Linked DNA regions of Homo sapiens. The protein of the gene in region 2 interacts with the protein of the main gene of each other region in a pairwise test. Each region holds a gene or a part of one and is shown on either strand. Other genes may lie near its edges.

The links.
Region 1: the proteins of NR1D2 (region 2) and CRY1 interact in a two-hybrid assay, tested with the Homo sapiens proteins (one study listed by BioGRID).
Region 3: the proteins of NR1D2 (region 2) and CSNK1E interact in a two-hybrid assay, tested with the Homo sapiens proteins (one study listed by BioGRID).
Region 4: the proteins of NR1D2 (region 2) and GPR37 interact in binary tests that used the Homo sapiens proteins (3 or more experiments, as listed by UniProt).

What each region holds. Positions count from the first base shown.
Region 1 is NC_000012.12:107,083,544-107,090,577, reverse strand, and holds part of CRY1 (cryptochrome-1), read left to right. Parts: intron 1-7,034.
Region 2 is NC_000003.12:23,976,281-23,981,146, forward strand, and holds the end of NR1D2 (nuclear receptor subfamily 1 group D member 2), read left to right. Parts: intron 1-942; coding exon 943-1,139; 3' UTR 1,140-4,337; downstream 4,338-4,866. UniProt on the Homo sapiens protein: Transcriptional repressor which coordinates circadian rhythm and metabolic pathways in a heme-dependent manner.
Region 3 is NC_000022.11:38,300,402-38,307,435, reverse strand, and holds part of CSNK1E (casein kinase I), read left to right. Parts: intron 1-4,187; coding exon 4,188-4,298; intron 4,299-4,426; coding exon 4,427-4,575; intron 4,576-6,483; coding exon 6,484-6,712; intron 6,713-7,034. Other genes in the region: TPTEP2-CSNK1E (casein kinase I), read left to right, coding at 4,188-4,298, 4,427-4,575, 6,484-6,712.
Region 4 is NC_000007.14:124,762,778-124,770,013, reverse strand, and holds the start of GPR37 (prosaposin receptor GPR37 precursor), read left to right. Parts: upstream 1-4,221; 5' UTR 4,222-5,037; coding exon 5,038-6,060; intron 6,061-7,236.

The DNA.
Region 1 (7,034 bases), on a different chromosome or scaffold from region 2:
TGAGACTGACAGCATTAATAAAATGAGATAGACAAGAGATGCAAATGGTGCAAGGGCTGAACCTTGAATACTCTTAATGTTTATAAATTGTGGAGCTGTGAAAGAACCAGCATATGAGACTGCGAAGGAGCCACTAGTAATGTAAGAAGAAAACCCAGAAGAGTATGGTGTCTTAGAAGCCAAGTAAAGAAAGTATTTTGGTCAGGCATGTAATCCCAGCACTTTGGGAGGCTGAGGCAGGCAGATCACTTGAGGCCCGGAGTTTGAGACCAGCCTGGCCAATATGGCAAAACCCCGTCTCTAGTAAAAAACACAAAAAAATTAGATAGGCGTATGGCACATGCCTGTAATCCCAGCTACTCGAGGAGGCTGAGGCAGGAGAATCGATTGAACCCAGGAGGCAGAGGTTGCAGTGAGGCGAGATCGTGCCACTGCACTCCAGCCTGGGCAACAGAGCCAGACTCTGTCTCAAAAAAAAAAAGAAAAAGAAAAAAAAGAAAGAAGGAAAATATTTCAAGGAAGAGTGTTTTACTTACGTCAGATGCTACCGATAGGTCAAGAGGAGAACTGAAAAATAAAAATTGGATTTAGCAATTTTAGGTCATTTGGAATTTTATCTGGAGTGGTTTTGGTAGTGTCAGAGGCAAAAGTCTTTTTGGAATCACTCATAGTACCAAATTCAGTGCTTTTTATATAGTAGTAGCTCAATTATTGTTTGTTGAATATAGTGATATCTTGGAGTCAATAATTTTATATTTAAACAGCTTTATTAATTTACTTATTGACTATGGGATAATGCCCAAATTCCTTAGCCTGGCAAGATCTACCTTTTGGCTTATGTATTTCATTTTCTGCTGTTTACAATATGTGATTTCAACTCCAGGGGGAAAACCCTCTTAGTTTTCTTTAGAAGCTATCTTGTATTTTCTTCGGTCAACACTTTTTAGACTTTTGGATTTAACAGAAAAGCAAAATTTTAAATAGTATTCTACCTAATAAGCACATTAACAAAACCACTTTTTGATATTGCCATCCTTTCATTTAAAAAGGATGTTTTATATTTAAAAAAAAAAAGTTTGGCAGAGCTCAATGTCTCATGCCTGCAATCCCAGCTACTCAGGAGGCTGAGGCAGGAGAATCACTTGAGCCCAGGAGTTGGAAGCTGCAATGAGCTATGAATGGGCTACTGCACTCCAGCCTGGGTACACAGAGAGACCCTATCTCTTAAAAAACAAACAAACAAACAACAACAACAAAAAATTTGAAGGACATTGTCTCAGAATAACATGTTTTTGATTTGGGTAAATTTACAAGCTTTATGAAAATTTGCATCTCTTAGAAAAATTATCCTATACAAAAACTTATACACTAACATTCACAGAAGCATTATTCATAATAGCCAAAAGGTGGGAACAACCCAAATGGCCATCAGTTGATGAATGGGTAAACAAAATATGGTATATCCATATAATGGAATATTATTTGGCCATAAAAAGGAATGAAGTACTGATATACGCTACATGTATGAATGAACCTTAAAAACAAACTAAACGAAAGAAGCCAGTCACAAAATTCCATGTGTTATATGATTCTGTTTATATGGAATGTCCACAGTGGGCAAATGTATAGAGAGAGGAAGCAGACTAGTGGCTCCTTAGGACTGGGGAAGCTAGGGAGTTGGGAGGTGATAGCTAAGGGGCACAAGGTTTCTTTTTGAGATGATGAAACTGTTCTAGAAGGTGATGGATGATTGTACAACTCTGTGCTTGTCTGGGATGATTAGCAGTATTCTGAACTCTTGCACCACTTTTTGCTGTTGCTCCTCACATCACTCTTAGCATTTGCTGCCCTCATTTGTGAATGTTAGTATTGTTTTATTAATAGTTTGTTTGAGCTGCTATAACAAAATACCTTTAGACTAGGTAGTTTATAAACAACAGGAATTTATTTCTCACAGTTTTGGAAGATGTCCAGAATCAAGGCACCAGCAGATTCAGTGTCTCTGCTGAATAGACGATGCTTTCTCTGTCTCCTCACATGGCAGAAGGGGTAAACAAGTTCCTGCAGCCCTTTTTATAAGAGCACTCCCTTAGTCTGTTTGTGTTATTATAAAGGGATACCTGAGGGTGGGTAATTTATAAAGAAAAGAGGTTTACTTGGTTCATAGTTTTGCAGGCTTTACTAGAAGCATGGCTTCAGCCTCTGGTTCTGGTGAGGACCTCAGAAAGCTTTTAATCATGATGGAAGGGGAAGTGGAGCTGACATATCACATGGCGAGAGAGAGAGGGGAGGGATACCAGTCTCTTTTTAATAATTAATTGTTCTGTTAATTAATAGAGTGAGAAGTCACTCATTACGTGATAGCACCAAGCCATTCATGAGGGATCTTATCTCATGTTCCAAACACCTCTCACCTCCAACATTGGGGATAACATTTTAACATGAGATTTGAAAAGGACAAATATCTAAACTATATCACTCCACTTCTAGCCCCCCAAATATCTTGTCTTATTTATTTATTATTTTTATTTTTATTTTTGAGACGGGGTATCACTCTGTTGCCCAGGCTGGAGTGCAGAGGCGTGATCATGGCTCACTGTAGCCTCAACCACCTGGGCTCAAGCAGTTGTCCCACCTCAGCCTCCCAAGTAGCTGGGACCACAGGCATGCATTACCATGGCCAGGTAATTTTTTTTATTACTTGTAGAGGTGAGATCTCACTAAGCTGTCTCATACTCCCGGGCTAAAGCAATTCTCCTGCCTCAGCCTCTGAAAGTGCTGGGATTATAGGTGTAAGCCACCATGCCCACCCTCTTTTTTCTATTGTAAGATATAATCATCTCTTTCAAAGTCCCCAGAAATCTTAACTAGTTTCAACATCAACTCAAAGTCTAAAATCTTATCCGAGACTCAAGGCAGATTCCTTATAGCTATGAACCTGTAAGATCAAAAACAAGTTATCTACTTTTAAGATACAATGGTGGAACAGACATTGGGTAAATATTTTCATTTTAAAAGGGACAAATTGACCAACAAAAAGGGACCCACCCAAGTCTGAAACCTACAAGGGCAGACATTAAATCTTAAAGCTGTAAAATAATCTCGCTTGACTCTTGTCCCATAACTGAGCACACTGGTCCAAGAGGTGGGCTCTTGAAGCCTTGGGCAGCCCCATCTCTATGGCTTGGTTGGGCACAGACCACATGGCTTCTTTCATGGATTGGAGTCTAATGTCTGTCACTTCTCCAGGCTGAGGGTGTGTGCTGTTTTCATCCAAAGGATTCTTTTAATCTTTCCACTTCCTCACTTTCCACTCCCTCCCACATCCTGAGCACACTGGTCCAAGAGGTGAGCTCTCAAAACCTTGGGCAGCTGCATCTCTATGGCTTGGTTGGGCATAGCCCACATGGCTGCTCTCATGGATTGGAGTCTAATGTCTGTCACTTTTCCAGGCTGAGGGTGTATGCTGTTTACATCCAAAGGATACTTTTAATCTTTCCACTCCCTGACTTTTCTTTTCCTTTTCTTTTTTTCTTTTCTCTTTTCTTTTCCTTTCTTTCTTTTTCTTTCTTTCTTTGTTTCTTTCTTTTTCTTTTTCTTAACAGTATTTAACACATTTGACCACACCTTTCTCTTCTTCTCTTGGCTTTAGTTAGACTGCCACCACTGTGGGTCCTGGAGGGCAGTGCCCCTGTTCCCGCTGCTCTACAGTGAGTTCTCTGTGGGGACTGTAACCCCATATTTCCCCTTGGCACCAGCCTAGTAGAATCTCTCTGTAGGAGCTCTGCTGTGGCAGGCTTCTGCCTGGACAGCCAGACTTCTTGACATATCTTGTGAAATCTAGGTGGAAGCTGCCAAACCTCCATGGATCTTGTATTCTGTATACCTGCAGACTTAACACCACTTGGAAACCATCAAGGCCTATGGTTTGCACCCACTGGAGTGGCAGTCCAGACAGTACCTGGGGCCTTTTGAGCCCTGGCTGCAGCCAGAGCAGCCAGAACGTGGGGAGTAGCATCTCAAGACCGCACAAGGCAGCAACACCCTGGGCCTGGCCTCCCAAACCATTTTGCCCGAGGAGGCCTCTGAGCCTGTGATGGAAGGGGTAGCCTTGATTTCTGGAATGTCTTGGGGGCTTTTCCCCATTGTCTTGACTGTTAACAACTGGCTCTCTTTTATTCATGTTAATTGCTTTAACAACCTGTTCTGTCAGGGCCTGGTACCTGGGGCTAGGTAGTTTGGATTTCTCTCCTGAAAACTTCCCTCTACCACATGGTTAGGTTGTAAATTTTTCAAATTTGTATGCTCTGTTTTTCTCTTAATTATTAGCTTTAACTTTGTCTTTTTTTTGAACTCCCATATCTGATAGTAGGCTGTTAGAAGCAGCCATGTCACCTTTTGAACGCTTTGTTGTTTAGAAACTTTTTTTTGCCAGGTAGCTTAAGTCATTACTCTTAAGTTCAGCCTTTTACAAAGTCCTAGGCATGGATACAATGTAGCCAAGTTTTTTGTTAACAAGCATAACATATAATGTGGCCATTTTTTTGTTTTAGTTTTTAAAAATTTTATTTGAGATCTCATGAACGTGGCCTTTACTGTCTATATTTTAATCAGCATTTTTATCACAACCTCTTAACCAGTCTCTAAAAAGTTTTAAAGTTTTTCTTGTGTATGAGGTTTTTTGTTTTTGTTTTGTTTTGTTTTGAGTTCTCTAAGCTCTTGTAAGCAGCTTTAGTTTTTGCTTTTTTTTTAATACTTTAAGTTCTGGGATACATGTACAGAACCTGCAGGTTTGTTACGTAGGTATACATGTGCCATGGTGGTTTTGCTGCACCCATCAACCTGTCATCTAGGTTTTAAGCCCCACATGCATTAGGTATTTGTCCTAATGGTCTCCATCCCCTTGCCCCTCAACCCCTGGCAGGCCCCGGTATGTGCTGTTCCCCTCCCCGTGTCCATGTGTTCTCATTGTTCAACTCCTACTTATGGAGAACATGCGATGTTTGGTTTTCTGTTCCTATGTTAGTTTGCTGAGAATGATGCTTTCCAGCTTCATCCATGTCCCTGCAAAGGACATGAACTCATTCTTTTTTATGGCTGCTTCATATTCCACAGTGTATATGTGCCAGATTTTCTTTATCCAGTCTATCATTGATGGGCATTTGGGTTGGTTCCAAGTCTTTGCTATTGTGAACAGTGCCACAATAAACATACATGTGCCTGTGTCATTATAGTAGAATGATTTATAATCCTTTGGGTATATACCCAGTAATGGGATTGCTGGGTCAAATGATATTTCTGTTTGTAGATCCTTGAGGAATCACCACACTGTCTTCCATAATGGTTGACCTAATTTACACTCCCACCAACAGTGTAAAAGCGTTCCTATTTCTTCACATCCTCTCCAGCATCTGTTGTTTCCTGACTTTTAATAATCGCTGTTCTAACTGGCATGAAATGGTATCTCATTGTGGTTTTGATTTGCATTTCTCTAATGACCAGTGATGATGAGCTTTTTTTTCATGTTTTTTGGCCACATAAATGTCTTTTGAGAAGTGTCTGTTCATATCCTTCACCCACTTTTTGATGGGTTTTTTTTTTTTTGTAAATTTGTTTAAGTTCCTTGTAGATTTTAGATATTAGACCTTTGTCAGATGGATAGATTGCAAAAATTTTCTCCCATTCTATAGGTTGTCTGTTCACTCTGATGATGGTTTCTTTCACTGTGCAGAAACTCTTTAGTTTAATTAGATCCCATTTGTCAAGTTTGGCTTTTGTTGCCATTGCTTTTGGTGTTTTAGTCATGAAGTCTTTGCCCATGCCTATGTCCTGAATGGTATTGCCTAGGTTTTCTTCTAGGGTTTTTATGGTTTTAGGTTTTACATGTAAGTCTTTAATTCGTCTTGAGTGAATTTTTGTATACAGTGTAAGGAAGGGGTCCAGTTTCAGTTTTCTGCATATGGCTAGCCAGTTTTCCCAGCACCATTTATTAAATAGGGAATCCTTTCCCCATTTCTTGTTTTTGTCAAGATCAGATGGTTGTAGGTGTGTGGTGTTATTTCTGAGGCCTCTGTTCTGTTCCACTGGTCTATGTATCTGTTTTGGTACCAGTACCATGCTATTTTGGTTACTGTAGCCTTGTAGTATAGTTTGAAGTCAGGTAGCATGATGCTTCCAGCTTTGTTCTTTTTGCTTAGGATTGTCTTGGCTATACAGGCTCTTTTTTTGGTTCCATATGAAATTTAAAGTAGTTGTTTCTAGTTCTGTGAAGAAAGTCAATGGTAACTTGATGGGAATAGCATTGAATCTATTAATTACTTTGGGCAGTATGGCCATTTTCATGATGCTGATTCTTCCTATCCATGAGCATGGAATGTTTTTCCATTTGTTTGTGTCCTCTCTTATTTCTTTGAGCAGTGGTTTGTAGTTCTCCTTGAAGAGGTCCTTCACATCCCTTGTAAGTTGGATTCCTAGGTATTTTATTTTCTTTGTAGCAGTTGTGAATGGGAGTTCATTCGTGACTTGACTCTCTATTATTGGTGTATAGGAATGCTTGTGATTTTTGCTGATTGATTTTGTATCCCGAGACTTTGCTGAAGTTGCTTATCAGCTTAAGGAGTTTTGGGGCTGAGGCAATGGAATTTTCTAAATATACAATCATGTCATCTGCAAACAAAGACAATTTGACTTTCTTTCTATTTGAATACCCTTTATTTCTTTCTCTTGCCTGATTGCCCTGGCCAGAATTTCCAATACTATGTTGAATAGGAGTGGTGAGAGAGGGCATCCTTGTTTTGTGCCAGTTTTCAATGGGAATGCTTCCAGCTTTTGCCCATTCAGTATGATATTGGCTATGGGTTTGTCATAAATAGCTCTTATTATTCTGAGTAACGTTCCATCAATACCTAGTTTATTGAGAGTTTTTAGCATGAAGCGGTGTTGAATTTTGTCCAAGGCCTTTTCTGCATCTATTGAGATAATTGTGTGGTTTTTGTCATTGGTTCTGTTTATATGATGGATTACATTTATTGATT
Region 2 (4,866 bases):
GTCCCAAAATTCAGGGGCTTACAAATGCAAACATTTATTTAATCTCACAGTTTTTGAGGGTTAAGATATGATATGAGAGATAGGATATGATATGTGCCTCTGACTCAGGGTTTCTTAGGAGGTTATAGTTAAGCTGTGGACAGGGCTGTGGTCTCATATGAAGGCTTGAGTAGGGAAGGATCTGCTTTCAGTTGTATGTAGTTATCGGCAAGATTGAGTTCCTTGCAAGCTGTTGGACTGAGCACCTCAGTTGCTTGCTGACTGTTGGCTAGAGCCCACTCTTAGTTCCTTGCCATGTGGGCCTCTCCACAGGGTGGCTCACAGCATGGCAGCAGCTTTTCTCAGAGTAAGTGAGCAAGAGCGTACCTAAGATGGAGGCCACAGTTTCTTGTAAGCTAATCTCAGAACGGACATCCTATCAATTCTGCCATATTTTTTTTCATTAGAAGTTAGTAAGTCTAGGTCCACTTAGTAGGAGGAGGTTGCGCAAGGGTGCGAATACCAGGATGAAGGGATCATTGGAGGCCATTTTAGGGGCTGCCTACCACACATGGTGACATACAAATGGGAGTGTATTCCATATGTATTGAAAATATGTTTATATACTACATTATTTTATTTTGCTAATTAGAAGCAGTTGAAATCAGATGACATCTAATTTTAAAAAGTCAGAACCTCTATGTTCTTGTGAATAAAAATTCTTAACAGTAAAGAATTTTGATTGATCAAATGTTTTATGTGATATATATGCTTTATAATATAGTAACTAGCTAACGATTTGTTACTGAGATTTTGAGAAATTTGTCAACTTTTGCCTTTATTCAGATGTATAAAACCTTGCTTTCTATTCGTTAGTGACACTGATAAGCAAGAATTTTATTTATATTTAATGTTAATAATTTATCCTGTTTTTCCTATTTCCCTATTCCTGATCTCTCTTAGATCGATCTGGAATAGAAAACGTCAACTCTGTGGAGGCTTTGCAGGAAACTCTCATTCGTGCACTAAGGACCTTAATAATGAAAAACCATCCAAATGAGGCCTCTATTTTTACAAAACTGCTTCTAAAGTTGCCAGATCTTCGATCTTTAAACAACATGCACTCTGAGGAGCTCTTGGCCTTTAAAGTTCACCCTTAAGGCCTTTGTTTATTTAAACATGAACTGATGGTAACTGTACATTTTGTGCTAAAATGCATATTTATATGTGTATACCATATGTGGAGATAGAAAAGACCTTTAAGACAATAAAAGATTGTAGGCTATCTCTGTAATCATGCAATAGCTGTTCGGATTGAGAACTCTTCAGCCATGATTAGACGTTGACTGCATCTCCCTGATAGACCAATCAGCTGTGTCGCACTTAAACTGGAGAAGTTACACTGAAGTATAATCACACTGAATGTTAGACTTTTTCATCTGCCAAAACCAAAAACCATTTTGATCTCCCTGTGGTTATCAATATAACGCACAATCACAAGTGTATGAGGACTTAGAAATTAATCCTTTGTGGTAGGAGTTCTGTTGAATGATGGAAATCTTATTACTACCACAAGACTATTTGATCTGGTAATTGGAGACTTCGGGATTTAGGAGATCTCCATGTCTGTATTTACTCTACCACTGCTAAAGTGTGTGGTCCTGGGTAGTTTACTTGCTTGCGGAAAATGAGAATTGATGGTGTCCCCAATGCCCCACCTCACAGAGTTACTAAAAAATGTCTGTAAAGCATATTTACCTCTTGGGAGATAGGCACTATGTAAATAAGGTAAAATTTCTGTTATTACAATTATTCATAATAATATTCTTTTCTTATTTCTAAGCCTTTCTGGGAAATCATTTCAGTCCACACCAACCATATTATTCAGGGTTCCTGCCATATGTGTGGGGTATCCTACTGATACACACGTATTCAAAGTTTATGGGTACAACAAAGACATAGTACATGTACATAATATGTATGTGAATATAGTTAAATATATTTCTTCACAATATTTTAAACTGTGAAGAACTTTATCATACAGGAAACTTAAAACAAGAGGTGTCAAAAGACCCAAATTAGGTGCATTTTACTTGTTTATGATGGCATAACCATTGCTTTAAAATGTTTAGACAGTAGAATATTGAATTTATGCTCTATTTTTGTTTATTTAAGCAACACTTAATGTAAAAGTGCAACAGGCAATTGAATCCAAATTTCAACGACAAAAAAAAAAAACATGTATTTTAGAGTTCATCTTTGGCAAAATCTTTGGTTCAGGGTACTAGTTGTTTAAAAGTTGATTCATATTCTTACCTTGTGCTGAGAAAGGTTGCATTGCTGCCCCTTATACACATGCTGCAGCTTGATGTTAAAGAATTTTTATTCTTTCTGAAGAACTAATTAATGTTTAAAGCAACTGTTTAATATGATGGCATGTGTGTGTGTGCGTGCGTGTGTATGTTCTGAGTCCACTTCTTTTTTCCTAAATAACACTACAGGGATTTTGTCATATTAGATTTAATTTATAATTTGAAAAATCATCTAGTGTGTGACCTACAGGCTTAGAAATGGTATAGTCAAAGACATTTTATCCACATTTCTAATAGTGGACTTGATTAAGTAGATAAGATCAGCATCTGTTTATGGTAGTAGGAGAAATAGCCAAAGTTGAGGATTTTATGTATGTTTTCCTGTTTACCTGGAAAATAGCAATTAATTGGATTTTTTGGTAAAGATTGCCTTCTGTATAATGTTTGGATTATATAAAATTGCAAAAATGATAACAGCCCGCTTTACTGTACTAAGCCTGTTACTTTCATGACGTGTGAGCAGAATGCCTTATTTTGTAATCTTGTTTAACTTGTTGCTACTGGGACTTGATTTACTGTGGCACTAGTTAAGTAAGTTAAAAAAAAGTTAAACCCTCTCATTATTAAAGAGGAAAGGCGATGGTGATGTCTGTAGTACAATATAAACCATAATTGTGATTTACCTTAAGTAGGTATAACTCTTATGGGATATACAGTATAGTTTTTGTGAATCTTTACATGATAGCATTATCTTTTTATAATTTTTTTTCCTAAGATAAACAAATGCATAGTTTTCTTCTATGGGTGATAGAAACAGCTTTTTGAAGTAATGAAAACCTCAAAAGATCATGTTGATTCTTAATTTTTGCCTTTTGCATAAGCCTCTTTATAACATGTATCTTTAAAACAATTAAGTCTTTAGGAATGTGTAACCAGAACTATGTTAGTATTGCTTATAAAACTTTAGTTAGGTTCAATATATACATATATACATCTCTATATAGGTATATAGATTTGCATTTTGTCTTGTAAAATTTTATTTGAATAAATTCTTCCTGTAGGTAATGGGAAACAAAATTAATAGTTCATATGTCACTCATAGCATTTCTATATTTGAAAGTAGCCCAATATAAAACTTTTGATTCTAAAATTAAACCAGCAGCCTATTACAAGCACATTCTTTGATTGAGTCATTGGTTATAAACTTACTAAATGCAGAGAAAGCAGCCAATTTAGGAAACTTCTGAGTTGGTGGGACACTGTTGATTAATAATGTACTGTATGAATTAAGTGATGCTTTAACTTTGATTTTACATTTTAAAGTTAAAATGTGGGCATTATGTCAGCAAACTTAAGGGCATTATGTCAGCAAGCTAAAACATTTTTTTTCCTGTGCTTTTAATGTATCTCTTTACATGATCTGAGAGAGGATTCAAGTTGATAGAAATAGCTGAGGGGAAAAGGGGGAACATCTTGGGATGAAGCTTGTCCTTATGGTGATGGTTTAATTACAGATTAAAAAATTAGAAGGAAATTTCAGTGGATTAAGTGTATAGCTTTCATATCTACATTTCAAGAAATTACCATTGTAACTTGATAAGAGATGATTTATTTTATGTAAACATCTTTGCAAAGCAAGGTGTAGCAGCTCAGCTAGATTTATTACTGTGCACGAAAGTAAATACCTATCTCAATTATTCTTTTTCTTTTCCAATATAAAGTTTGCTGAATGTACAAGAAGAGTTTATCACTTAGGATATAGAATTTTTTTAGGGGTTGGGGGAGGGGATCTGTTAGGAAACTGTTACCTATAAACAAAGATTGACTGGATTCGATCCAAAAGATAAAACTTGAAGCTATTCTGGAACTAACATGGAAAAATGAAATGGCTATTGTTTAAAAAAATGATAGAAATACATTGTTGATGGGATATGAGTTAAGTTTATTTTCTACAAACTGTAATTGATGAGGACATGGATAATATCTTCATGTTTCTGAGAAGTAATCTGTATGTGGGGGGAGGGGATAATAAATATTTCTAACCAACTGTGGTGTTTGGTGTCTAATCTACCTTGCCTTTTTTGTAAAACTAATAATTTAACTCACTACAAGTATCTTTCCCCTGAGCATAGCAGGATGTTTTATGTAAATCTCTGATTCAGCATGGGGAAATGTGTGTATATGTATATATGTGTGTGTGTGTATATACACACATATATATGTATATGTGTATATATGTATGTGTATATATATATATGTATATATACATGCACACACACACACAGGGCTTAAAAAAAGATTTTAGAGTTGAGATTCTGGCAAGGACTGTTGCTATTTTCTATAATGCCAACTGAGTAATGGTTCGTTGTGTCTAATAAGGTAGTCTTTCTAGGTAGGAGATGTGAGAGAGGAATGGGGTACTTGATATAACCAGAAATCACCCTTGGCCATGAATGGAGTGCACCTCAGCAAGACCACTAGCTTCTTTTTCTTTTCCTATCAGTTGTTCCCATGTTGGCAAAATTAAGATAGCTACTTAAATCTCCATTGTTTGCAGTAATATTGTTAGGCAATC
Region 3 (7,034 bases), on a different chromosome or scaffold from region 2:
GGATTACAGGCGCTCCCACGGGAGCACCTTGGCTAATTTTTGTATTTTTAGTAGAGATGGGGTTTCATCATGGTGGTCAGGCTGGTCTGGAACTCCTTGCCTGGTGATCCGCCTGCCTCAGCCTCCCAAAATGCTGGCACCTGGCCTTCTCCATATACTTTAAATCATCTCTAGATCACTTATAATACCTAATACAATGTAAATGCTATGTAAATAGTTATTGTACTGTATTTTTAATTTTTATATTATTTACCTATTTATTTTTGAGACATGGTCTTGCTCTGTCACCCAGGCTGGAGTGTGGTGGTGTGATCATAGCTCACCGCAACCTTGACTTACTAGGTTCAAGCAGTCCTCCTGCCTCAGCCTCCCAGGTAGCTGGGACCACAGGCACGTGCTACCACGCCTGGCTAATATTTGTATTTTTTGTAGAGATAGGGTCTCACTATGTTGCTTAGGCTGGTCTCGAACCGCTGGACTCAAGTAATCCTCCTCAGCCTCCCAAAGTGGTAGTACTACAGTTGTGCATCACTGCACCCAACCTATTTCTTATTGTTGTGTTGTTATTTTTTATTTTCTCCCCCCACGTATTTTTGATCCATGGTTGAATCGGCAGATGCGGAACCCACAGCAGATGCTGATACGAAGGTATCAGCTGATAAGAAGATGCTGTGTTCTAATTTTTAATTTTTTTTTTTTTTTTTTTGAGATGGAGTCTTGCTCTGTCGCCAGGCTGGAGTGCAGTGGCACAATCTCGGCTCACTGCAACCTCTGCCTCCTGGGTTCAAGCAATTCTCCTGCCTCAGCCTGCCGAGTAGCTGGGATTACAGGCGTGCGCCACTACGCCCAGCTAATTTTTGTACTTTTAATGGAGATGGGGTTTCACCATGTTGGCCAGGATGGTCTTGATCTCTTGACCTTGTGATCCGCCTGCCTCGGCCTCTCAAAGTGCTGGGATTACAGGCGTGAGCCACCGCGCCCGGCCTGTGTTCTAAAATTGATTGTGGTAATGGCTGCGCAAGCTTGTGAATATACTAAAAACGGTGAGTCGCACACTTTGAGTGACTCAATTGGAGAGTTATCTGAATTACATCTCAATAAAGGTGTTGAAAGAAATTGCAACTTATAACACAGTATCCAGTGAAGCGTCCCCCACCCCTTCCTCCCTGACCCACTTAGCCCTGTACAGTCATGTTTCTGTTCAGTGTTTCTTTATGTAGCTAGAGCCAAACACAGATACTTAGTTCCCCACCTTTTTAAAGAAAACTGAAATGAGAGTGTGGAATATACACTGTTCTGTGCTTTGCTTTTTCACTTCCTGTATCTTGGAGATCTTTCCACTTGTGTGCAGAGAGAGCTTCCTGGTTCTTTTTCCATTGTATTCTGTTTTATGGATGGGCTATTCTTTATTTAATCAGCCCCCTCAGGAGGGACATTTGGGTTGTTTCCAAGCTTCTGCTGTTCCAAACAGCCTGCAGCCGACAGCCTTGTCCCCGCCTTGTTTTGCACCGTGCTAGGATGTCAGGTAAACTCCCAGAAGCGGGGTTGCTGGTCAGGGCTGAGTAGCGTCAAATCCCCCTCCAGTGGCGACTCAGCAGTTGACGCCTCCACCACCTGGGAGGAGTGCTCAGCGCCCCCACAGTCTTGCCGACAGACAGGTGTGTTATCTCGTAAGACTTTTGACAATCCTAGGTGAAACATGGTCTTTCACGATCATATTAATTTGCATTTCTCTTACAAGGAGGTTGGGCATCTTTCCCTATGAGTAAGGCTTTTCTATTAATGATTTCTTTCTCTGTGAAGTGTGTGTTTCAAATCCTTTGGCCTATTTTCTGCTGAGTCTTTTTCTGACTGATTTGTAGGAGCTCATTACATATTAGCTCTTTGCCTGTGATAAGAATTGCAAGTGAGTATGTCTCTTAGGACTTTATTTCCGGTGTTTTTGCCATGCAGAAGGGATTCTTTTTTTTTTGGAGAGGAAGGAGCTTTTTTTTTTTTTTTTTAAATGGCTTTAGGATTTTGAATCAGGGATAAAAATAAAAGCTTTGCCTAACCCCAAGGCTATAAGGCAATTCTCCCTTCTTCTAACATTTCATTGTTATTTCTTATTAAACGTTGAGTGGATGCAAAGAATACGTATAGAATACCTGCATGGCCTAAGGTGTCCCTCCCTGGGAACCACCGTCTGACATTTAATCTTTTTCCTTTCTTTCGTGTTTAAATCTGTATTGTCCAGTCTTGTTGCCTGTTTTGATATGGAAACAAGTAGAACTGTGCTTGCACTCTTCTTTTTTTTTTTTTTTTTTTTTTTTTTGAGCTGGAGTTTCACTCCGTCACCCAGGCTAGCGTGCAATGGCACAATCTCGGCTCACTGCAACCTCCGCCTCCTGGGTTCAAGTGATTCTCCTGCCTCAGCCTCCCAAGTAGCTGGGATTACAGATGCCTGCCACTGCGCCCGGCTAATTTTTGTATTTTTGGTACAGACAGGGTTTCACCACCTTGGCTGGGCTGGTCTCGGACTCCTGACCTTGTGATCCACCCGCCTCAGCCTCCCAAAGTATTGGGATTACGGGCGTGAGCCACTGTGCCTGGCCTCGGGTAGAATGTTTTCAAGGTGCACTCGTGTCGTAGCGTGTATCGGTACTTTATTCCTCTTTATTGCTGAATAATATTCCGCCGCATGGAGGCACTGCATTCCATTCATCCTTGCATCTGTGACAGATGTTTGTTGTTTCCACCCTCTGGCTGCTGTGAGGAGTGCACCCCTGGGACCAGGGTCATTGTGTGAAGCAGGCATCCTTTCCTCTTCACTGCCGCCTGGGATTCCCTGGTGACTGCGCCACTGTTCCTGTTCTTCTGCTGCTGAGCACTTGGGCTGTTTGCTCCTGTGTCCATCCTTGTCCTGTCCCCCTGGTGCACACGTGTTTCTGAAGGATGTACACTCAGGAGTGGGGTTGCTTGGGCGAGCGTTTGTTTATGTTCAGCTTCACCCAAGAGGTGCACAGGGGCTGTGCCAACTCACACCCACACCTTTATTTCTTATATACAAACTTTTCCTCTACTTGAGATTTCTCCTGGTTGTGGTGTGAGCCATGGTGTCTTTTCTCAGGTGGCCAGCCGGTTGTTCAGGGACATTATTAATGAACAGTCTCATCTTTTCCTCTGATGTGAGGTCCTGCCTTTCTCCTGTCTTGAACTCCTCCTGAGGCTGTGTCCCTGGGGGTTGTTCTGGCCTGTTTGTGTCCTGTTGCGACACTGTCCTACTCCTCCTGCTGGGCTCGCTGCTGGCCCCAGGAAGGAGACACCCTGTCGCCCAGCCTAGCCCCAGCCCTTCATCTCATCCACCCATACAGCCAGGGAAACTGAGGCAAGGTACACTTTGGGCTTGGTCTTTCTTGTGACTTCTTGAGTTGGGCAGTGGGCCCAGGCAGAGAGCGGGGCCTTGGTGTGTGTGAGGGTATTTTCTTAGAGCCCCTTGAGAAGCCAGGAGTGGACTGGGGGAGACGGGGAGGTGCAGGCAGGACCTCTGACCTATGCTGGAGGCCAGCAGAGCCGGGGTTGATCTCAAGGCCGCCATTTACAGGTCAGGTGACCTTGAGCTGGGTCTCTAGCTGGGTCTCTGTTTTCTCATCTCTACAAGGGGGTTGAGAATCGAATGAGACACTGGATTAGAATGTGCAGGGCTGCCTCTGAAGGCATCAGCATTGACTGAGGGGTTGCTGCGGCTGTCCCATCCTCATCCTGTAGGCCAGGGTGGTCCTGGCTTGTTCTGGTGTGTTCGGCAGCCCAGCCCCATTGGGCCTCTTCTGCACGTGCCACCATCTCAACCCGACAGACCTCACTGCCTGAATTTGCTCTAGGACTCAGCCCCCTCCCTTAGGTGGTCTGTGAGCCTTTTGCATACCTGACCCTTGCCCCACTCACATCGGGCCTTCTTGTCGCCCCAACCTGTGGCCCTGGGTAGCCCTTGTGTGTCACCTCTGTCCCTCACAGCGCTGACCTTCTTTCCCCTCAGGAACCCTTTGCCGGGGCTCCTTTGCCCCCTTCCCAGCCTCCCCCAAGAGCTCCTCAAGGGCAGATGGCCCCGGGCCCGGCACACGCCAGATCTCAGAAATGCTTAGTGGGGCGCCTGGGACTGCCTGGCCTTTGAGGGTGACCCTGGTCCCTTGCCTCCCTGCCCCGGGCAGGTGCCAACATCGCCTCTGGTGAGGAAGTCGCCATCAAGCTGGAGTGTGTGAAGACAAAGCACCCCCAGCTGCACATCGAGAGCAAGTTCTACAAGATGATGCAGGGTGGCGGTGAGCGCAGGGTGGGCGGCGGCGGGCGCCGGGTGGGTGGCGGTGGGCAGCCATGAGCACAGGGTGGGCCGGGCGTGGCTGGCTGCCTGCCTCTGACCCCTGACAGAGGCCCTCTGCTTGACCCCCAGTGGGGATCCCGTCCATCAAGTGGTGCGGAGCTGAGGGCGACTACAACGTGATGGTCATGGAGCTGCTGGGGCCTAGCCTCGAGGACCTGTTCAACTTCTGTTCCCGCAAATTCAGCCTCAAGACGGTGCTGCTCTTGGCCGACCAGATGGTGAGTCCCCGTCCCCTCCATCCCCAGCCAGATGCCTGTGGGCCCAGGATACCAGCCCTGCCTCCTGCCCCCAGAGGATGCCAGAGGATGGGCCTGGGCCAGGGGACCTTGTCCACTGGCTATAGAATTGTAGGTGTTTATTTATTTTTTGAGGCGGAGTCTCACTCTGTCGCCCAGGCTGGAGCGCAGTGGTGCGATCTCAGCTCGTTGCAACATCCGCCTCCCAGGTTCACGCGATTCTCCTGCCTCAGCCTCATGAGTAGCTGGGATTACAGGCACCTGCCACCACGCTGGGCTAATTTTTGTATTTTTAGTAGAGACAGAGTTTTACCAAGTGATCCGCCCATCTTAGCCTCTCAAAGTGCTGGGATTACAGGCGTGAGCCACCGTGCCCAGCCAAGTTGTTTATTTAAAATGTGATTTCAGGCCCAACTCCAGACCTGCCGAGTCAGGGCCTGGGACTCTGCCTGGGGTAGTTTTATTTATTTATTTCAAAAATATCATTTAATTGTAAGAAATAGAGATGGGGGTCTCACTGTGTTGACCAGGCTGGTCTCAAACTCCTGGCCTTGAGCAGTCTTCCCATCTTGGCCTCCCAAGATGGGAATTAACACGGGATCACAGGCATGATCCACCACGTCTGGCCTGCCCTGGGTAATGTAAAGCCTGCGGTCGGTCACACAGACCTGGTCCTGTTCCAGACCAGTGACCGTAGGTGAACGCCGAACCTCTCTGAGCCTCAGTGGCCTCATGTGAGAGTCTCTCCTTTGTTGGTTGTTGAGGGGATTAGGTGAGATACCATTCAGCGCCTTGCCAAAACAGGCCCCTCTAACAGGCTGTTGTTAAGTACTAAGCCCTTCATCAGCATAGGGAGGAAAGCTTCTTAAAAATACAAAACTGTAGAATTTTGAACTTGGAATGGAATGTGGAGATCTCGTACAGGGGTTTTAATCTTGGTCTGCAAAAGCCCTGCGATGTAGGCTGAAGGTGTGTGAGCAGAGGGTCGCCAGAGCCCCTCATGGTGTGAAACTCAAGAAAGGTGCAGGAGATGTTGAGCTGTGCTGAACCTGGGGCCAGAGCCAGAGGCCACGGCATGTGGATGGATATTAGTTTGAGTTTTAAAAACTCGACTGAAAAGGTGGCTCAAGTCTGTAATCCCAGCACTTTGGGAGGCCGAGGCAGGCGGATCTCCTGAGATCGGGAGTTTGAGACCAGTCTGACCATCATGGTGAAACGCCATCTCTGCTAAAAATACAAAAAATTAGCCAGGTGTGGTGGCGCGTGCCTATAGTCCCAGCTATTCGGGAGGCTGAGGCAGGAAAATCACTTGAACCCTGAAGGCAGAAGTTGCAGTGAGCCGAGATTTTGCCACTGCACTCCAGCCTGGGCAACAGACCGAGACTCCATCTCAAAAAAAAAAATATCAAAGGAAAGAGGGCCATGTGCCTGTCTGAGTTTGGCATCCTTCGGAAGCCCTGTCTTTTGTGTTCTGCCTCTGTCACCTCTTCCTGGTCTAGGCTTCCCCCATGTTCCCTGCCTGCCCCTCGCCCACATCTGTTGCCTCTCTGGCTCCCTAAGTCCTGTGAGTGTGGGGCCGGGCAGGCAAGCCTTCCATGGGGAACCAGTTGCCTTTCTAGCAGACTCTTCATTTCTGGATCTTCCCATTAGCTTTCCTGCAATACTCTCTTTCTCTGTCTCACAGCCAACTTGGTGAACTCCCCCTTTAGAGTTCATCCTGATGTCACATTTTCCAGGAGGCCTTCTCTGGCCTGCCCCTTAGTTATCCTTCATGGTCGAAGGCAGGCCTTTCTCCCTCTGCCTTTCCACCTCTGTGGCCCCAGCCCCTGCCTGGCCCAGAGTGCTAGGCAAGGGCCCCTCTGTTGAACAAATGGCCCCCCTCCTCCCCAGATCAGCCGCATCGAGTATATCCACTCCAAGAACTTCATCCACCGGGACGTCAAGCCCGACAACTTCCTCATGGGGCTGGGGAAGAAGGGCAACCTGGTCTACATCATCGACTTCGGCCTGGCCAAGAAGTACCGGGACGCCCGCACCCACCAGCACATTCCCTACCGGGAAAACAAGAACCTGACCGGCACGGCCCGCTACGCTTCCATCAACACGCACCTGGGCATTGGTGAGGGAGCCAGGCCTGGAGCAGTGTGCACCCGGGGCCACTGGCTGGGGCCCAGCTCTCTGGAGCCCTCTCACCCCCTACCCTGATGGAGGCCCCCAGGCTCTTTTCTAGTGAGAAAGTCCCCACCCCGTCTGCCCCCAAGCTCGTGCTTATTCCGTGTCCTTGCACAGTCGGGTCTTCCCCTTCGTAAGCCAAGCTGTGTGTGCCGGGCGCCTTCCCTGGCCCTGCTTCCTCCTCCGCCCTGTTGGTGCAGGCTGGAAGATACAGGCTCAGAGGTTTAACATGGGTTGCTTAAGGTCATGCAGCTTAGCTAATGCCAAAG
Region 4 (7,236 bases), on a different chromosome or scaffold from region 2:
CTTGGCTATGCAATTAGTGTGCTGGTCCAAGTATGGTTCAAACATATTTTATGTAGCCCAATGTCTACATTTTTGTCTGGAATAAATAAAAGACTATTTTGATTATTGTTGTTTTATTTTAAATTTTAAGTACTTTAATTTTGATATTTGATTTTTAAGGTAGACATAACCATATTGATATTATATTCCAAGCAGTGCCATTTCCCACCCGTTAATGATAATTTGGCTCTTATATATGGCAAAAGAGAGAGGTGATTAATGAAGGTGATCAATGGAGGCTTCCAAACTAACAATTAATAATTCAGTGACAGAAAGGCTGCAACCACAAACTATTTGGAAAACAGACAAATTTTGAATTTCAGAAAATAATAATCTATTGGTGGTATGTTACAGTTTCTTTCAGAAAAAATGACCCTTTTGAATTATCTGAGGCAAAAAAGAAAGAAAATTATTTGATAAGTGAATTGTGTGCTGGGTAAAGCTTCTGTTCAACGATGTATCTTAAAACTTGAAATAGTAATTTCTCTCATTCTGTGATGTGTGTTATTTCAGCACACCAAACACCAAATGAAGTGTAATAGATTTTATAAAAATGCCAAGGCAGGTAATAATTTACATGTTCTTTTTTTATTAAAAAAATCAATAGTATGTATTATAAACCTTGTGAAATGCTGACACAGGAAAAAAAATCCATGTTCAAATCAGTTTTCTTTGTACAGATAAATGGCCTCAGATGTAAACCAGACAATGATTAGCTAATTCCTTTTCTGATCTATATTTCTAAAGTAGAATCTACACAAATGAATGAGATGTGACTATTTCCATTTAAAATTTATAGTTACAGCTGAGCTAAGCTTTGGAAAAATATTTGAAGATGTGTGTTTTTCTTTTTGCAGGGAATGCATTCTAAATTTTCTTATAAACCTATTACTTTACACTTTTATTTACCAAGCATATTCTTTTTCAAGGATTATGTGTTTTTGACAGCATTTAAATTTCACTAAAAACAAAGTTGAACTACCAAGAGCAACAGTAATAAATATTTTATACTTTATGTAGTCTTTTCATATCTACCTAATCCACATAACAACTTGGGTGAGCAGAGCTGAGAGTAGGTATTAGTATCCTTATTATACAGATGAGAAAATTGTGTTTCCAAAAATATAAATAATTGATATTTTTGGAAACACAATTTTATAAATAATTGATATTGACCTGGGCTCCAATAGAGTAGCTGGAGCTCTTTGGTTTTATTCATGGTCCGAATAAGTTAGAGAACCAGAACTTGGCAACCATCCAAGTAGGTAGGCATCATTGTTCAGGTTAAGGAAGGGACCACTCATGAATGAGATACCACCACAGACAAACACAGGTAGCTCCTCCTTCAGGCCTTTCCCCAGCCACTCTCCAAGCATGGTACCTGAGTTCTATAGCCCACCACTTTAAGAATGATGCCCAACTCTGGGCCAAGCATGTGTGAATTACAATGGAGCTTCTAAGGGAGCAGGTAAAGGGATTTTTCCCTGTTTAGCTTTGATTCCTTTCTGTGTAGTGATAGAGATTAGTGACACATTTATGTGGTCTAGAGTAAAAAGGATAGAAACATATCTTACATGTGTAACTTAAACTCTAAGCTAATGAGATGAGAAGGGAAGCTATATCACTGTTTCATTTTGGCAACTTATTTTTCCTGTTTCATTATTAATCCAGATTTCCCTCTTCTAAATTTTTTTTAAAGAAACAAGATACTACAGTTAGAGTAGAAGCTTCCTTCCATCCCATGACCATTCTTCTATTTCCTGAGGTGACTAATATTCTGAAGTTGATCTGTATTTATTCCATTCACATATTTTATATGATACACCATGTATGATTATCAAATTGTTTTATGTGCATTTTAAGAGCTACACAAATGGTAGCATTATATAGTTAACACATCAAGTTCTACGTTTTTCCCTTACATTTATGTTTCTGAGATTCAGTCTTGGTGATACACATAAGCCTAGTTTGTCCTTTTTATGAGTATACAAGAAAATATAAATTCAGTGAGAGCAGAACTTTATTTTATTCACTGCTCTGACCTAAGTAACTTGAGCAGAATATTTCTTTAATGAAGTAGTGAATTTGAGAGAATGAGTTAGTGTATATAAATGAATGAATTAATGTACAAATGAATGTGTGCTATTAGCTTATATTTTTTCCTATTTCTGGCTTTGTCTGATTTTGACATTAAGGTTATTCTGCCTTCACAAAATGAACTGAGTAGCTTTAAAACATTTTGTATAAATGTATATTTATTCCGCAGGATATGCTAAGGTCTAGCACTTTCCTCTGGGTAGATCTTGATGAATGATTTGATTTCTTTAATGTTATAGTTCGATTACAGTTTCTGAAAATTTTCTTCTTGAACTATTTTTGGTAGTTTATGTTTTTCTATACAATTATTCCTGTTGTCTCCATTTTTAGATTTAATGGTGTATTAGTTTACTATTGCTACTGCAACAAATAACCATAAATTTTGTGGCTTAAAACAACACACATTCATTATCTTACAGTTATGGAGGTCAGAAGTCTCAAATGGGCTAGTAGATCCTTTTTTATGCCCATTCTAGCTTCCAGAGATTGCCCACATCACTTGGCTTGTGTTTGTTTTTACTCTGACCCTCCTGCCTCTCATTTGTAAGGGCTCTTGTGATTATAGTGTACCCACCTGGATAATCACGATACTCTCCCCATCTCAAGAGTCTTAGCTGAATTGCATTGGCAAAATCCCTTTTGCTCTGTAAGGTAACATACTCACAGGTATTAGGAATTAGGATTCGGACATTTTTTTGGGGGGGCATTATTCTATTTACCACAATTGGTATCATATGTTCCATTGTGTTTTCTCCTGCCTCTCTAGATGTGTTGCTTTAAAAAAATTCAGGCCGGGTGTGATGGCTCACGCCTGTAATGCCAGCGCTTTGGGAGGCCGAGGCGGGCGGATCACGAGGTCAGGAGCTCAAGACCAGCCTGGCCAACATAGTGAAACCCCGTCTCTGCTAAAAATACAAAAAAAATTAGCCGGGCATGGTGGCGGGTGCCTGTAGTCTCAGCTACTTGGGAGGCTGAGGCAGGAGAATCGCTTGAACCCGGGGAGGCGGAGGTTGCAGTGAGTCGAGATCGCACCACTGCACTCCAGCCTGGGCGACACAGCAAGACTCTGTTTAAAAAAAAAATTCAGAATGTGTTTATTTCTTCCTCTATCATTTTCTCTTCATTAATTTGTCTATTTTATTAGCTATGCCCTGACAGTTTTGACAGGGTTGTGGGATATAGTAGAAAGGTTGGAAAGGCATGGACAGCCGTGCTGGGAGTGCTGTTCGAGTAATTTTCTGCCTCCAGTCATTTCCCACTACTTCATCAAATACAACTACCTCACTATGCTCTGGGTGGTACGAAGTAACCCATGGTAGGATGCTTCCCAACTCAGTGTTAAAGGTAATGGTGCATCCTGAGCTTTCTCGCTCTGCATCTCAATCCTGGAACTGGTAATTCTCTATGACTGACACCTCTGAGCTCCCATTCTCTCCTATCTCTAGGGAATACCTGAGGAGGTGAGGTTTCACCTTCTTACTCCCCGCGGCCCAACCCCCGTCCGCCCCTCCCCCGCCCCGCCCCTCGCCCCCCAGAGCTGAGACCTGGGCATGCGCATCAGCCGCAACAGATTGGAGGGGACCCTGCTGCTCACTCCCCTGCTACCCTCCTCTCTTCCCTCCCCCGACCGCTCTCATATTCCCGTTCCCACCCCCACCCCCCACTCCCGCCCCGCACCCGCCCCTAGCCCGGGCTCGGGGACCTGTCAGGCTGGTTTCGACAGCTGGGGAATTAACCTGTCCCGCCCATCCCTAGCCTCGAGCCGCGCAGGCTCCGCGCCTCCGCCCTTGTTCCCTCCCAGCTCCTCCGAGTGGAAGCCGCTACAAATGGCTTGAATGAAACGTGTGTGGGTTTAGTGAGTGGTGAACCACCAGGGGATCCCGTCTCCCCACAAACCAGTATCTCTCCGAGGAGGAGGCGAAGGAGTGGGAGGAGGCAACGAGCCGAGAGTCGAGCTTCGCGGGCGCGCGCAGCGGCTGGAGCGCGGGGGCGAGGCCGGGCCACCTCCCCTTCCCGGCCGCGCACTGCCTGGCCCGCGGCGGTTCCAGGCACCACCCTTCCCGTCCGGGCTGAGCCCGCTGTGGCAGTGACTAGCTCCCGCGGCTAGCGGCACTGTCCACCGACGAGCGGCGCCCTCTTCTCCCCCTTCTCCCCACGATTTCCTTCTCTGCGGCGGCACGCCGTCCAGCAGCCTGCTTCGCCCCGTCGTCAACTTTGAGCTGGAGGAGAAGCAACTTTGGCAGTGGCCGCGGGGTTGGAATCCCGCTTCTCCTCGGCAGCAGTAGGCTCGCAAGTCGCTGGGGTTAGGTGGGGCAAGAGTTTCGCCGGCGCATCAGCGCTGCTTCGGACTGTTTGCAACGTGTTTCCAGCGAGCTGGGAGCGGGGTTGTGACTGCGAGTCGTCTGGGGGAGGGGGACTTGTTTTTCTTTTCCTCTAGAGACCTCGGCTTGCAACTGGATCAAACGCTGTCGAAAGGATGTAAATAGGCAGAGCAACTGTTACCAAGAAGGCCACCACCCCCACCCAAAGGCAGTGAGGAGTGTGGGGCTTCGTCTGGGCTCCCCCGAGTCTCAACAGTAATCAACAGTCAGGTGTTGATTGCAACTTTTCAAGGTCAGCCACCGGGAGTAGCCTATTCCCTCTAGGAACCTTGGAGGGCATACCTTGCTGGGACTCAACTTGGCTGAGAAATGCACAAGATGCCAAAGGAGGAAGGATTATAGGGGGCGTGTGTGTGACCCCCAAGACCGATCTTCCGCTATCACCCTAATCTCCGGTTCCCCGCTACCCGGGCGGGGGTGAGTATGTGACATGTGCCTAACTCTCAGCAGCAACTTCGGCAGCAGGTGTCGATCCTAACTAAGCAGGAGCTGCGGCTGCCGGGTGTGCCCTCACCAAGCCATGCGAGCCCCGGGCGCGCTTCTCGCCCGCATGTCGCGGCTACTGCTTCTGCTACTGCTCAAGGTGTCTGCCTCTTCTGCCCTCGGGGTCGCCCCTGCGTCCAGAAACGAAACTTGTCTGGGGGAGAGCTGTGCACCTACAGTGATCCAGCGCCGCGGCAGGGACGCCTGGGGACCGGGAAATTCTGCAAGAGACGTTCTGCGAGCCCGAGCACCCAGGGAGGAGCAGGGGGCAGCGTTTCTTGCGGGACCCTCCTGGGACCTGCCGGCGGCCCCGGGCCGTGACCCGGCTGCAGGCAGAGGGGCGGAGGCGTCGGCAGCCGGACCCCCGGGACCTCCAACCAGGCCACCTGGCCCCTGGAGGTGGAAAGGTGCTCGGGGTCAGGAGCCTTCTGAAACTTTGGGGAGAGGGAACCCCACGGCCCTCCAGCTCTTCCTTCAGATCTCAGAGGAGGAAGAGAAGGGTCCCAGAGGCGCTGGCATTTCCGGGCGTAGCCAGGAGCAGAGTGTGAAGACAGTCCCCGGAGCCAGCGATCTTTTTTACTGGCCAAGGAGAGCCGGGAAACTCCAGGGTTCCCACCACAAGCCCCTGTCCAAGACGGCCAATGGACTGGCGGGGCACGAAGGGTGGACAATTGCACTCCCGGGCCGGGCGCTGGCCCAGAATGGATCCTTGGGTGAAGGAATCCATGAGCCTGGGGGTCCCCGCCGGGGAAACAGCACGAACCGGCGTGTGAGACTGAAGAACCCCTTCTACCCGCTGACCCAGGAGTCCTATGGAGCCTACGCGGTCATGTGTCTGTCCGTGGTGATCTTCGGGACCGGCATCATTGGCAACCTGGCGGTGATGTGCATCGTGTGCCACAACTACTACATGCGGAGCATCTCCAACTCCCTCTTGGCCAACCTGGCCTTCTGGGACTTTCTCATCATCTTCTTCTGCCTTCCGCTGGTCATCTTCCACGAGCTGACCAAGAAGTGGCTGCTGGAGGACTTCTCCTGCAAGATCGTGCCCTATATAGAGGTAATGCCTTCCAGGGGCTCTCAAGCTAGTGGCTTTATCTGTTTTCGGGATTATAGCATCAGAGAACTGCTGCTGGATGCACCTATCTAGCTGAACGCCTTTCCTTTTTATCTGGGGCCCTCTTTCATTTCTCTTTCCAATCATTTATGCATGTATGTATATACAAAAAGAGGCAGCTTCGCGAAATCACCTTCAAATTCATCTGCTCCTGGGCTGTAAAAAAAGGATGATCTCACAATATACAGAATTGTTTGGAGTATAAATCTATCTCCCTGAATATGGTGTTATGCGTATTTCTGATTTGGCACTTGTCAGAGATTTTAGGGTTAAGTAAATGGCCAGCCTAAGGTTGTCATCATCAGAGCCTACAAGGAAAAAAAAAAAAACATTAGCATTTGTGTACTAGTTACCAAGTGCTTCAATGTGAGTTTTCCCCCAAGAAGATTATTGCATTTTTTCTTAAACAGCAAAGTTGGAGTAACATTTTATTGAAAGAAAGAAAGAAAGAAAATTGTGTTTGTCAGTTGGCCTCATGATATATTAATAACCTCTCAAATTAGTTTAAGTGTCTGACTGTCTTCCATGCTATCCCATCTAAATTCTTAAGTCATTTTTTGTTCCTGTCTTTTCCCATCTCGGTTTCTTAATTTTATTTTTGTGTGTTTGCGTGAACTTAAGCAAAAATAAGACTTTGGCCAGCGTGGCACATAATTTGTTTAACATTCTCAAAGTTATACATTTGTTATTTGTTATGGGTGGAAAGATTGGCTATTTTAAGGGATTGACCCTAAGACTAGAAAATTTCTTGGGAAGAAGGGGGCACATCTAGTTTCCAAACTTTGGAAACAAAAATCATTTTGAGTGAAATTGCATTGTTTCATCCTACAGCTAGTGTCCTGGCCCACTATTGTGGTAGGTGGACTTTGCTCTTTAAATGGCCTCTCTTTAAACACCAGCTCTTGGAAGGGGCCCAACTGTTTTGCTGCCAGTTGTGTTTTTAGCCAGCTGGCCCTTGATTTTCTCCATTCAGACTGTCCATTTCATTTATGGAAGCAGAAGAAGGGAAACTGTAAATATTCCGCAGCCCCTGATCCTGTCTGGCACCAGGGCCTGTGACACTATGTTCAACATTGTTCCAGGCCTAAAGCTGGGGGATAAGTAAACAGAAAACAGTAC